Linked DNA regions of Homo sapiens: region 2 is linked to region 1. Evidence: fine-mapped expression QTL. A gene starts in region 1. The other region holds a variant in brackets. All regions are shown on one strand. Distances are from middle to middle.

What was found. PIP is the estimated chance that this variant, and not a neighbour inherited with it, causes the effect. A credible set is the group of variants that fine-mapping cannot tell apart.
Region 2: its variant is the best candidate, but not a certain one, in a credible set for the expression of METTL9 in blood mononuclear cells (TOPMed, PIP 0.58).

The regions. Positions count from the first base shown.
Region 1 is chr16:21,598,114-21,601,018 of GRCh38, forward strand. It overlaps METTL9 (methyltransferase 9, His-X-His N1(pi)-histidine), which reads left to right and starts at 1,464. Exons shown (of 5, transcript NM_016025.5): 1 at 1,464-1,785. The coding sequence starts at 1,621. LOC101927814 (a long non-coding RNA gene) reads right to left here and starts at 1,272. Exons shown (of 3, transcript NR_110930.1): 1 at 543-1,272. RefSeq lists a silencer at 1,451-2,070 and an enhancer at 2,179-2,743.
Region 2 is chr16:21,630,556-21,633,460 of GRCh38, forward strand. All of the region lies in intron 4 of METTL9 (methyltransferase 9, His-X-His N1(pi)-histidine), which reads left to right. Among named protein-coding and RNA genes, the nearest start is that of IGSF6, 21 kb to the right of the region's middle. The variant A/G (reference allele first, on the strand shown) is at 1,601.

The sequences.
Region 1 (2,905 bases):
GCCGAGGCAGGCGGATCACGAGGTCAAGAGATGGAGACCATCCTGGCCAACATGGTGAAATCCCGTCTCTACGAAAAACACAAAAATTAGCTGGGCATGGTGGCGCGCACCCGTAGTCCCAGCTGCTCGGGAGGCTGAGGCAGAAGAATTGCTTGAACCCGGGAGGCGGAGTTTGAAGTGAGCCGAGATCGAGCCACTGCACTCCAGCCTGGAGACAGAGCGAGACTCCACTCCGTTTCAAAAAAAAAAAAAAAAAAAAGCTGTTGGGTAAGGAATGATTTTGTTCCCCATCTGTGGCTCACCACCCCACTGTTTCATAAATGAAAATCTCTGATGTGCAACGCTGAATTAACCAAAAGGCTTACTTCTTTTGTTTTGAACTTAGACACATTTACATTATTTCTGGTGCAGTTAAATTAAAAGCACTTTCCAAACAAACCTAGGAAAGTATTAAAGTTAGGGACTCCCACGAAATGTTACTCCTTAATTGTGGCTTGGATAATAGCAGGAAGAACTGCAGACAGGAACACAGTGTAACTAACCCTTCAGTTCTGAAATGTTGCTAGGTCTCCTCGTGTTATAAATGATCAAATAAATATCCGGGTTAAACACTGCTCCCAGAGCTGAGTTCACTCTTAAGAGTGTTGGGTCCAACTTCCCTGTGCTAATTCAAGGAAACAAGGCAGCCAAGGAGTCTAACTTGAGGTCTTCATTCTTGGGCAGGGCCATCAATACATCTAAAACATTACTTGTGGGTACCCCAGCTGCGGTAGCTTCCCCAAAAGGCAGAATTTTCACTCATTCTTTATAGAAACACGTAGCCAGCAACTTCTCAGGCTTGGGGAACGGGGCAGGCGGGTCGTGGTGGTGGGGAGAGTAGAGGAGGGAGTCTGGCAGGTCGGTTCTAAATGTAAACTGGAAACTACGCATCCGAGCGGGCAACCATCACTGGCACCATTCGTCTCCGGGAAGAACCTGTGTGTGTCAGGATGCACGAAAGGAATGACTCCCCTCTTTGCGCCCCCGGGGTTAACTGCACGACCCTGTCAAAGTCCCGCCGTGGAGTGGGATGAGGGTCGAGAGGTAACCCTGTCAAAGTCCCGCCGTGGAGTGGGATGAGGCGAGGAAAGACTGGAGGTCCTTCCAGCACCACCTTGGAGGGGCAGGGAGGCTGCAGTTACCGCCTTCGGAAGTGATCTCCTCAGCCCTCAAAAAAATTAAAACCACCTCCGCCATTTACTAGAGGCCAAGGCAGGGCCGGGACACGAGAACGCGCTCCGGGCGGATGCGCGCTCCCTTTGTCCCGCCTCCCAGCGGCCCGCTCATTGGACGGAGGGAGGGCGCCGGGGGAGAAAGCGACGCGGCCGCTCGTAAGTGCTCCGGATGGAAACTGGTGCAGGGGGCAGCGGCGTTCCGCGGCCGGAAGGGAAGGGGGAGGTGCCGAGGCTGCGCGCCGGCTGCTCCTCCCCACCCCCAGCCTTTGCCCTGAAGGGGGCTGGATGGGCAAGGCGGCCGCGATGGCTCGAGCTCGGGCGGTGGCGGCGGTGGCCGGAGGCGGCGGTGCCTCCTCCTCCTCGCCCCGGCGCCGGCGGTGATCCGAGCGAGCGGCCGCGGCCCCCGATGAGACTGCTGGCGGGCTGGCTGTGCCTGAGCCTGGCGTCCGTGTGGCTGGCGCGGAGGATGTGGACGCTGCGGAGCCCGCTCACCCGCTCCCTGTACGTGAACATGACTAGCGGCCCGGGTGGGCCGGCGGCGGCCGCGGGCGGCAGGAAGGAGAACCACCAGGTACGGGCTGGGGCCGGGGCCGGGGCGGGGGCGTGGCGGCCCGGCCTTCCCGCGCTGGGCCCGGCTATTGTGCGGGACGGCTCCGCGAGGGGGCGGCCCGGCCCTCGCCCCTCCGCCTCGGCCCCTTGGAAAGTTTTCCCCGCGCCTTCCCCGCCGGGCGTCGACTCCGCGAGCCCCGGGCACCCGGCCGCGGCCCCGCGAGCGCCTTTTGTTCCGCAGCGCAGGCGGGGCATGGCCTCCCGGGCCCGATCGTGAGCGGCCCGGAGCCCCGCATTGTTCCTGGGTCCCGGGCGGTGACTGCGGACGCCCGGCAGCGGGACTGGGGAACTTTGGGGCCAGAGCGTGGCTGGGGGCGCCCGCCTGGCACCGAGGCCTGAGACTGAAGAGACCCGGCCAGATCCATTACCCCGAGAAACAAAACGAAAAGCCAGCCCCTCTTGTTGTCTCGTTGAATCCCAGAACGTACAAAGGGTCGTGAAGAAATGTAACTGTACATCGCAAGCCATTGAACTCTCCAGGCTGATTGGGGTGACATTTCTCCCTAAGCACTTAAAAAATGGGTTTGACAGGTTGTCGCTCCCATCCTACGGAACCTTCCCCTCCTACCTAGCAGAGATCTCCTTTAAACTTGGATTTAGTCAGCCTGCTAGAAAGATTGTGTGTGATGAGGAGGAAGATTATGCAAGTTTTACAGGAAGGGTTTTTAAAACAGAACGGGACGGGAGGGAGTTTTAGTTATGCATCGTGAGCGTTACGCTGTGACCGGGTAGGTAGGCTTTTCATTAGCTCAGTCTTGCGCCACTTAAACGTGTACAGGTTAACTGTAGAATTAAGTGAGATATTTCGTATATGACCTTAACATAGTTTGCAGTTAATGTTAAATTCATTGAAAAGAGGCTTTTGAACTCTGCCAGAGTGTTGGCTTGTCATAGCTAGCATTTATAATACATTTTGCTTTTCCATAGAGTATTAATTATTCCCTATATCATCTTGTGTCTCATCATTTTCATATATTTCTCATTTTCCTACATTACTTTTTTATTATGCCAGGTGTTCAGAGAATTTACACCCAGGTTGATTTCATGTGTTTTAATGAGGGTAGAGAATTGTCTAAGAAGGA
Region 2 (2,905 bases), 32 kb after region 1:
GATGACCACTCTAGCTACTTCCTGCTGGATAGGGGCGAAGAAGGGGCCCTGCAGTTGTAGTGTCCTCCAGAGGGGAACTCTTTAGGCCAGTGGAAGGGCCAGCGGGTTGGTCCAGGGGTCCTCGGTAGAAGTTGTTAGTTGAGCTCATTTGGGGTTCCATTTGTAAGACCATCTATAGCTTGATGGCCTCCATTCTAGAGGAAACAAATTTGACAAGAAGGTTAAAATTACAGGGCCCAAAGGTGAGTAACAGCAAGATGGCTGCCACAGGACCTAGAAAGGGGAGAAGCCATGTTGCCCAACTCCAGAGGTTGGTACAAGAGTTTGAAAGGTGGTGTCTGATTTCAGAAGCCTTTTCCTGTAAACGCTGGGCGGCATCTCGTACTATCCCTGCCTGGTTAGTGTAAAAACAACACTCTTCTCCTAAGAAGGTGCAGAGTCCTCCCTTCTCAGCAGTGAGGAGGTCTACGCCTCAGGGGTTTTGGAGAGTCACTATTGCCAGAGAGTCTATTTGGGATTGTAGAGTATGGATAGATTTTGTTATTTCTTGCAAACTATCTGAGAAATCCTTTGATAGTGTGTAATAGTAGGATAATGAAGTAGATAAACTGGCTATTCCGGTTCCTGTAGCAGTAGCCATTCCTAACCCTATAAATAGGGGTATTAGTTGTATGGCTCTGTGCTGACGGACTTGAGCTTTGAAGAGTATTGATAGGGTCTGATTTCCACAAGATTAGAAGTTAGGATAATATATGTTTACACTGTTAACTTTTAGCAAACTTTACTTTTGTTGAAAACCTTTTAAGTTTGGGATTTCAATTATTCTTTGCTATTAATAAGACCTCGTTTAGTGTATATTAACTTAGAATTGGTATAGATGGCTCCTTCCTGATTCTGTAAGTACTTTAAGGCTCAGCTGAGTGCAAACAGCTTGCAAGTTTGAGCAGACCAATTATTAGGCAATTTTCCTAACTCTGTTTCTACAAGAGTTTCCTTATCATTTACTGAATACTCATTGTGTCGTTTTTCCTTAATCGCCCGGGAGGAACCATCTATCGTCCTGTCCTGAAGGGAGTTCCTCCTATGTCTGATTGGACCTTTGTATGGTGATTAAGATTTAGATCCCCTGTTAGGAAACCTGCTGGGTTAAGGATTTTTGATAGGAAGGCTATGGGTTGTCAGTGGCCTCAGTGCTTTCGCGCTACGCCCTTGTTTACACTGACAACAAGGTGGTATTGGAGTGTTACAGGGTTACAGAGAAGACCTTCAATTATCAATTATAGGTTTTAACTTTACCCTGGCTTTTAAAGGAATAGGGTACACTGTTTTTTCTTTACTACTTCCATCTCTCTTTCTCTTTGACTTTTTCTTTGTCTCTCTCTCTCACTGACTCCCTCTTTGTCTCTGTCTCTTTGACTTTGTCTCTTTCTTTCTTTCTCTCTGACTCCCTCTGTCTCTTCCTCTCTTCCCTTTCTGCTGGTTTTTCCCTGCCTCTGCCAGCCACTTATCCTGCTGTTCTCCCCTCTCCTTCCCCTTTTGATGGCTTTGGCAGTGTAAGACTGCCGCCTCCTTGGGTTTTTGCACTGCATGCAAAAACTCC[A/G]TAATTGCCTTGTGGTATTTAATGGGGGTTCCCCCCAGAGGTTAGGAACTCCCTTTCTTTCCATATTGCAGCATTGGCATGTAGGATTACATAAGCATACTTGCTATCTGTATACACATTTATTCTTTTTCCCTTTTCCAGTTCTAAGGCTCAGGTAAGTGCCACTAGTTATGCTAACTGGGCACTGGTCCCTGGGGGAAGAGGCTTACTTTCAAGTACGGTTACATCATGAACTATGGCATAATCTGCCCTTTGTATCCCATTCTCCACAAATGAACTTCCATCGGTATATAGGTTAAGGTCAGGATTAGCTAGGGGGCCTTCTAAGAGATCATCTCGGGCCACATAAGTCTGGACTATAATTTATTGGTAGTCATGCTCGATTGGTTCCTCATCCTCTGGGAGAAAAGTGGCAGGGTTGAGGGCCACGCACATACGTATTTGAAGCACTGGTCCCTCAAGGAGTAGTGCCTGGTATCTAAGCAGGTGGTTGTCTGATAGCCATAAACTTCCTTTGGCACCTAGTATGCCACTTACATCATGAGTAGTCCAGACAGTGAGATCCTTTCCTTGTATTATTTTGATAGCCTCTGACACTAAGATGGCCACCGCCGCAACTACCCGTAAACAGGCCAGCCTTTTGCTACTACATCAATTTCCTTACTTAGGTATGCCACTGGTTGTGGGGTCATCCCACAAGTCTGAGTAAGGACTCCAAGAGCTATCCCTGCTCTCTCTGTGATGTATAAAGAGAAGTTTTGTTCTGTGGGAAGGCTTAAAGTCAGAGCTTATACTAGGGCCTGCTTTAAGGTTTTGAAGGCTATTTCTGCCTCTGGTTCCCCTTCTACTAGATGAGTATTTGCTCTCTGGGTCTCCTCGATTAGAGTATAGAGGGGCCTGGCTATCTCGCTGTATCTGGGGATCCATAGTCAGCAAAAGCCCGTGATTCCAAGGAACCCCCGCAACTGTTTTAATGTCTTAGGGCAAGGATAAGCCAGTATAGGCTGTATTTGTTCCTTGCTGAGGGCCCTCATTCCTTGCTGAGGGCCCTGGTCCCTCTGGCTAAGATTAGGTCTGGATATTTGACCTGCTGTAGGCAAAGCTGGGCCTTTGACCTAGACACCTTGTACCTTTGATTAGCTAGAACGTTCAAGAGATCTAGAGCAGCCTGCTGGCACGAGGCTTCTGAACTGGTAGCCAAAAGTAAATCATCCAAATACTGAAGGATCAGAGTGTCTGGACTTGAGAAGTGTCCTAGATCTTGGGCCAGTGTCTGACCAAACAGGTGAGGGCTATCCCTAAACC